3 separate regions of the Homo sapiens genome follow, and all the other regions are linked to region 3. The links come from fine-mapping of genetic effects on gene expression. A gene starts in region 3. Each other region holds a variant in brackets. All regions are shown on one strand. Distances are from middle to middle. Region 1 overlaps LOC107985814 (a long non-coding RNA gene). Region 2 has its middle 18 kb from the start of LINC01868. Region 3 holds the start of NPAS2 (neuronal PAS domain protein 2).

Region 1 (2,500 bases), 180 kb before region 3:
TATTTCTCCCACAATTCTGGAGGCTGGAAGTTCAACAGCAAGGTGTCAGCAGGACTGGTTTCTTCTGAGGCCCCTCTCCTTGGCTCGTAGATGGCCATCTTCATGTTCTAATAGGGAGACCAGCCATACTATATTAGGGCCCACCCTTGTGACCCCATTTTACCTTAACCACCTCTTTCAGGACCCAATCTCCAAATACCGTCACCATCTGTGGGTACTGGGGGTTAGGACTTCACCATGTGAATTTGCTGGGGGACAACATTCAGCCCATAACAGGATCACTGACTGAAACCCTAAGGGGCTGCATGATTTTATTTTCCTCATAGAGAAAAAATCCAGGCCTTCTAGAAAGCTTGACCTTGTTTCTTTCCTTCTTGTTTTGTTCTGTTGTGTAATTAGGGAAAATACTAGAAAAAAAGGAAGGAGTCATATATATATATATATATATATATATATGTATATATACACACACACACATACACACACGCATGTGTTATCATTTTCATTCAATAAAAATATATTTTATTTATTTATTTATTTTATTTATTTATTTTTTGAGAGAGGTTCTGGCTCTGTCACCCAGGCTGGAGTGCAGTGGTGTGATCCTGGCTCACTGCATTCTCAGTCTCCTGAGCAGCTGGAACCACAGGCATGTACCACCACACCCAGCTCTTTTTTTTTTTTTTTTGCGGGTGGTGGGAGGAGAGAGAAGCTCTCACTGTTGCCTAGGCTGGTCTTGAACTCCTGTGCTCAAGTGGTACTCCTGCCACGGCTTCCCAAAGTGCTGGGATTACAGGCATGAACCACCGTGCCTGGTCTCAATGTGTTTTTAGTTGACTTAGAAGAGACCAAATAGCCCCAACCAGGCTGTTTTCCAACTACAAATGAGGATAGGCTCCTGCTAACTGACTCTCCTAGAGGTATCTTTTTTTTTTTTTTTTGGCCCACAGATCAGTGTCTTAACCCCACCCCCTCTGAGATCACCATTCCTTTCATAGGTTTAGCATTAGACCACCCACCACCCCTGCTCCCTTCCTCTCCTCTGTCCCTTCAGGAGGGGAGACCCCATCCCTCCCTGGGAGTTGGCCCATGTAAGGATAGCTGATCGCACCCCCAAGTGGGGTTAGACCATCACTTTGCTACCTCTTATCTCAGCATCAGATCAGCGCTTTCATCAGAATAGGGCCCTACTGTGTGCTCCATTTCCCAAACCCTCTCAGATACATTTGATCTTTGCACGTTTGATCTTTGTGTCTGCGGGAGGAGGAAGGAAGTGAACTTTTACTGAGCTTGCTCCACATTTTAGGCTTATTGTTAGTGGTTTTTGCATCTGTGGTTTCTTTAATCATCATGTCAACCTATGGCATGATTGTGTATCAGAAAAAAAAAAGTT[A/G]TTATTCTGTGTAACCCTCAACTCAACCCCACCCCACTGATGTGCTGCAGAGGGTAGGGTGCAGTACCAGAGACGTCTGAATATTAATCTATAGAACACATTGATCTACAAGTCACGTTGATCTACAGAACAAAGGGCATGGAGAGCTCAGGAAGAAGAAAATATTTGAGAGTGTGGTGGGGGATGGTGGGGAGTGGAGAGAGAGCCGGTATCCTGTGGAATACAACTTTGAAGAGAGTTTTAGAAAGCCTTGCTGGGGATGTCTGGTGCATTCCGCTCCCTGCTTTGTTATAAAAGAGGATTTCTGACTTGCCTATTTGTGTTTCCTTGGGGGGTATCAGAGTTCAGGCATTGGGCTTGTTACACTCAGGTACAGTTGCTATGAGCACCATTTTATAAATGAGGAAACTGAGGCTCAGAGAGATGAAGTCATTGTTGGTCAGTGAAAGACCCACAGATTAACTTCCAGTTTGTCTAACTGCAGTCACCTGACTGGTTCTTCCTTTCCACAGCGCAGACAAAATCAGCTCACTGAGGCCACGGTATTGCAATAGAGAAAGAGTTTAAATGACGTGAGGCTGACCCACGTGGGAGAACTGGAGTTATTACTCAAATTAGTCTCTCCAAAAGCTTGGATATTAGGGTGTTTTGGATAATTTGGTGGGCAGGGGGCTAGGGAATGGCTGCTGCTGATTGGTTGGGGATGAAATCACAAGGGTGTGGAAAATGGTCCTCGTGCACTGAGTCTGCCTCTACATGGGAGCCACAAGACCTGTTGAGCCATGAGTCATGAGTCCTGGTGGGGTCAGTCTGAAAGATATCTCAAAAACCAATCTTCAGTTCTACAATAGCGATGTTATTTATAGGAGCAATTGGAAAAGTCACAAATCTTGTGACCTCTGGCCACATGACCCCTGAGCAGTAAGGGATTCTAGAAACTATGCCTGTCTTGTCAGAATTCAGGCCCCTCTCTCTCATAATCTTAACCTTGTGACCTTTCATTAGTTTTACAAAGGTGGTTTAGTTTGGGGAAGGGCTATTATCACCTTTGCTTTAAATGTAAACTATAAACTCAATTCCTCCCAAAGTTAGCTTGTCCTATGCCCA
Region 2 (2,810 bases), 160 kb before region 3:
AACAGGAAAAAAAAGAGGAAAACGGAAATGAGAAACAGAAACAGTATCCCAAGAAAAGATTAGTCAGGAAATACCTGATGGACAATCTCTGGGCAAAGTTTAAGTTAAACAGGTGCCCCACAATACAAGAGAGTCTATCACTCTCATTTGAATTTGGCATGACACATAAACAGATAAATCAAAGGTTTTGTAAAAAGAGGAAGAAATATAACAAATAAATGTCCAAGAGAAAGAGTAAGAAAACACATATGAGATGGGGTCTCTCTGTATTGCCAAGGCTGGTCTCGAACTCCTGCCCTCAAGCGATCTTCCCACCTTGGCTTCCAGAAATGCTGTGAATCCAAGCATGAGCCATCGCACCTGGCTAAGACATTTTATATGACACCATTCTCACCAATAAATGGAGTTCTGAAAGGATAAACAAGAAAATATTAACAATCATTAATTCCGTGGAGTAGAACTAAATGAGGGGCATGCAAAGGAGGTTTTATACATTTTATTTTGACCCTATTGTAGATTTAAAGTTTTTATAATGGATGTTAAAATTGATTTTATTTAAGAAAAAAATCAATAAAAAAAAAATACAGACTAGAGCTCTCTCTCTCACACACAAGGACACTGTGAGAAAGCAGCTGTCTACCAGCCAGGAAGGCAGCCCTCACCAGAAGCTGAACCTTATCAGACCTTGATCTTGGACTTCCAGCCTACAGAACTGTGAGAAAATACGTTGCTGTTGCTTAAGCCGCCTAGTCTATGGTATTTTGTTATGGCAGCCTAAGCAGGCTAATATATCATCTTTCCTTTTGTGGGTCATGATTTTGGTGTCAAATCTAAGGACTCTTTGCCTAGTCTGCATTTTAATTCAAGTGTGTTTTCAAGTCATAAGGAAATCAACCTGTAATTATGGAATTTCAGGCTAGTAGCAAGGACATTCGGCATCAGAAAAGGACCTCTTTGAACCGTTCGTTATCCTACACCCGGCTCAGTCTCCTGAGCTGGCTCCTTGTGAGTAACCTCAAGAAGTAAGATCTGTGTAGAGATCACGAGGAGAGGCGTGTGATGCTCGCCTGTCGGTACAAAAGCTCAAAAGAAGAGTAAGCGGGTCCAATAAATTGCAACTGTTCCTACGGGAAATTATTGTCTTCCAAGTTTAAGATTCCTTTCCACATCCATTATCCCAACTGAGCTCTAATCCTCTGAGGTGAAGCAACTTTGATAGCCCTTTTCACAGAGGAGTGGACTGGGGCTTCCACAGGATCACATGGAAACCGGAAGTGATTTTCAGCTAAGAACTATCCTCAGGGATTGGCTGCTGCTTTTTAGGAGTAATAAAAAGAAAC[T/C]TCTCTGCTGGGCGCGGTGGCTCACGCCTGTGATCCCAGCACTTTGGGAGGCCGAGGCGGGCGGATCACGAGGTCAGGAGATGAGACTATCCTGGCTAACACGGTGAAACCCCATCTCTACTAAAAATACAAAAAATTAGCCGGGCGTGGTGGCGGGCGCCTGTAGTCCCAGCTACTTGGGAGGCTGAGGCGGGAGAATGGCGTGAACGCGGGAGGCGGAGCTCGCAGTGAGCCGAGATCGTGCCACTGCACTCCAGCCTGGGCGACAAAGCGAGACTCCATCTCAAAAAAAAAAAAAAAGAAAAGAAAAGAAAAGAAAGAAAGAAACCTCTCCAGCTAGCTAGAGGCCCAAAGGGCTCTTTAGTGGACATATATTGAGATACCTCCTGAGTCCCAAAGTGGGAGATCTCCTGGGCCTCACAGGCGTGGGACCCTGTCCTTACACGTCTCTCTCTGCTTTTCTCTACACCTTTGCTCCATTCACTAGGCCTCTCACACGGATGCATCCTGGTTTCCCTAGAGTAGAGCTCCTGCAACACAGTGCCCAGTTCCTTGGAAAGGGAGCGTGATTGGCCCAGCCTGAGCCATGATTAGGTGAGGAAGGACATTGTCTAAGTACAGTTTAAGTCACTTGAGGCCTTCCTGCATGGGAGTGGAACTGGATGAGCTGTGTCGACCTGAGCTGTTTGGAAAGAGATTGAACTGAACTGAACAAAATTGAATAATCCTGCAATACTGGTACTTCTATCCCTCATCTTACAGATGTAGAAACAGAAGCTCATGGAGTTAACTAAATTGCCCATCTAGGTCCAAATTAGTTCAGCAGGAAGTTCCTCATCAGAACAAATTAATAAAGTCAGGCTGTTCTCTTCATAGCCAGGATGACCCTAAGCTGGTCCTAAAGTTGGTCCCTGATTGATTTCAGGGAAGAATTTCTTATATGGAATTGAATGTGTTAAGGATAATGGCTTAAGTTCAGCCTATGGCATTTGGGTCAGTGGATTTCCAATGACACTCATGCAAAGAGCTTCTGAGTTTTGGTAGAAAGAAAGAGCATAAAATGTTAGGGAGCGTTTTTCAGGAATATTTTGGAGTACAAATGATCAAAACTAAACTCAAACTGCTTTAAGGAAATATACTGAGAAGTCCCAGAGTGCAGGTAGCTTCAGGCGTGATGGAAAGTAGAGATTCAAACAATGCTATCAAAGCTGTCACTCCACCTCTCAGCTCTTTCGTCTACACTGTCTTCACTATCCAGCAGGCTCACGCCACAGGGTAGCAAAGGCAGCCACTGGTGGCTCTAGGCTTACACTGTCCTCAGGGCTACTGCACCCCATGAAACAGAAAGCGCGTCTATTCCCAAAGCTTAAACAGAAGCCCCAAGGTGTGATCTGATTGGCCCAGCTTGGGTCTGTGCCCATCCTGACCCGATCATTGCACTGGACAGGGGAAGCAGAGATAACCTAATGA
Region 3 (2,500 bases):
GGGGATTATTCCTGTACCTCTGCCTCCCTCCGCTTGGCGTTTGCGGGAACCTTGGTAAAATCCTCCCTGTTTCTCGCGCGCGCCTCTCTCTCCAGCTTCTTTTTCTTGGATTCTCGCCTGTCTCCTCCCACAGAGGAAAAAAAAAAAAAGGTCACGTATGTTTGGAAAAATATGTAGGTCAGTGGAACATTTCCTGCACTGGTGCAAAAGGAGAGGAGGGCAGCGGAGGAGGGGAGGGAGAGGCAGAGTGGAGCTCCAAGTGCCCGCTCCTGGCCGCAGCCCCACACCCCACGTGCCCCTGCCGGGGAGGGGGGCAATTAGCCGGTTCCTTTCCATCCTTGACCCATTTTCCGGACCAGCTACGTTCGCCTTAGGACAGGCACTGGTTATTCCTCCCCAGCAGTCGCTGCTGTCCTCCGCCGACCACCGCTCGCCCGCATCTTCCCCGACCCCCGCCTCCCACCTGCCCCCGGGCCGCACCCCCGCCGCTCATTGAGAAATCGCAGTGGTCCCCGCAGAGACGCGCTTTGTGCCCTGGGTCGAGACCTGCGCGCAACCCTGCCCCTGGAGGACAGTGTGGAGGGGGTGACAGTCGCGTGCTCGTCCCCCTTCATCCCCTGCGCGGGACAGCAGGGTGGCGGCCCGCACTGCGAGGGTCTACACTAGGCGGGGGCGGCAGATTCCTTGTTCCCCCCGAGTGACAACTTTAATGGGACCTCGGCTGGCAGCCTCTAGTCCACTTGCCTCTCCTCTGGGCCGGCTCACCTGGAAGCACAACCCCCCCCTCCCCCAGCCCCGGCGCCCAACCCCGACCCTGCGCCCCAGGCCCGACCCCGCCGCGCGTCCCTGGCAGCCCAGCAGAGGCTGCGGCGGCCTGGGGACTCGCGGGTGTCTGCGCCGCCCAGGGAAGCCGGGGGTCTAGGGGGCCGGGGGTCCGTCTGCCTGCGGCGCGCGCGGGGTGCTTGTCCCAGGCTGGGTCGGGGCCAGGAGAGACCCCGCAGGCGGAGGCAGGCGAGGGGAGGAGGAGGAGGGTGGGGGTAGGAGGGGGAGGTGGAGAGGGAGGAGGGTGGAGGGAGGAGGCAGGGGAGGAGGCAGAGGCGGAGGCGGCTCTCCCCGCCGGCTCTGCGTGCGGAAGAGTTTGCCGCGCGAGCAGCCGGCCTCTCGCAGGAGCCGAGGGACCCGCGCGGCTGCGGCCCAGGAGCGGCGGCCGCGGAGCCCGGAGACCCGCAGCCGCGGCGGCGGCGGCGGCGGCGGCAGCAGCTAGAGCAGCGCCTCCCGCCGCCGCCCGGGAGGAGCTCGCCGCGCCCGCTCGCCGCCTCGTCTCCCAGCGGCGGCGGGAGGCGCGTCTCCCCGGCCCAGTCCGCGCCCGGCCCCGCGGGGCCGCTCCGGCCCGCTCCGAGGTAAGGGGCCGCGCCTAGGGGCGCGGGGGACCCAGGGTGGGTAGTACGTGCGCGCGGGGTCGCAGGACTCGGTCACCTGCTCGCCAGCGTGGAGGACGCGCGGGGGCGGAGGGGCGCTCAGGCGCGAGGCTGCGCGGCACCGGGGACCCCGGACGCGGGGGCGCGGAGAGGTGGGTTCCCCTCCACAGTCAGGCCGCTGGGGGCTTCGCGTCCTGCAGGAGGTAGCAATCGCTGGGCCGGTGGGCTCCGGGCGCGTCTCGACGCAGAAGACAGAGGACTGGGCATCCGAGCCTCGGAATTTGGGGGTCCTCGGGGTGTCCGACAGGGTGGAGAAGGATCGTGCCCCAGGGCAACAGCTTTGGGGATTGCCCGTGGTTGTCTTCGAGACCCATCGCGCTACCCTCCGAAACGTCGGGCGTCCTGGACCCCCGGAGAGTGCGGCGTGCGCGCCCTGGGCCCGCGGTCTCTCGGAGTCCCTGGGTCGGAATTGGTTCCGGGCCGGATTGGGTGCGGAATCGGTGCCCCCAACCCCCGTGTGCGCAGACAGCGTGCAGCCTGGCTCCTCACGTCGCTGCCGCCCCCCCACCCCAACTCCGGAGCTCCCCAGGTTGGATGTATGCGTATGGTTTTGTTGGGAGATGTGCCCCTTTCCCAGCCGAGGAGGGACGCACCTTTGACCTTTCTGAAGAGCTGGGCAGGTCGGTAACCAGGGAAGGGACAGGCACCACCCGGCTAAATTCAGAACCAGTCCCGCTCCTCTGCTTGCCACTCCTTAATTGCTCAAGGTAAGAAAGTTTGTTTCAGCCCTGTGATTCATAAATAATTAGTAACTAGTTTTGTTGATTAAGCAAGATGGAAACCTTGAATATACGCACGCACTTCCACAAAGTCTAAACACTCCCGAGCTTGTGTCCGGGAGGCTTTAGTACGGAAAGTTAGAAGCCCTGGAGTTCAACAGGTGTTCAGGAGGGTCCCGGAGAGGAGTTTCGTCTTTACGCGTTGCTTTGGCATCCACCCCAACTTCATTAAAGTGGTTAGCCTGTTTTCCTACAGGTAAAACATTGATCACTTATTAAATTAACTTAATCAGCAGAGACGAG

The links.
Region 1: its variant is fine-mapped to the expression of NPAS2 in whole blood (TOPMed, PIP above 0.99). The same link has a PIP of 0.9 or more in T cells and blood mononuclear cells.
Region 2: its variant is fine-mapped to the expression of NPAS2 in whole blood (TOPMed, PIP 0.98).

Annotation. Positions count from the first base shown.
Region 1 is chr2:100,642,951-100,645,450 of GRCh38, forward strand. The region is part of intron 3 of LOC107985814 (a long non-coding RNA gene); the gene reads right to left. Among named protein-coding and RNA genes, the nearest start is that of LINC01868, 36 kb to the right of the region's middle. RefSeq lists an enhancer at 1-341. The variant A/G (reference allele first, on the strand shown) is at 1,394.
Region 2 is chr2:100,660,378-100,663,187 of GRCh38, forward strand. It overlaps the pseudogene NANOGNBP1. Among named protein-coding and RNA genes, the nearest start is that of LINC01868, 18 kb to the right of the region's middle. The variant T/C (reference allele first, on the strand shown) is at 1,341.
Region 3 is chr2:100,819,015-100,821,514 of GRCh38, forward strand. It overlaps NPAS2 (neuronal PAS domain protein 2), which reads left to right and starts at 1,125. Exons shown (of 21, transcript NM_002518.4): 1 at 1,125-1,400.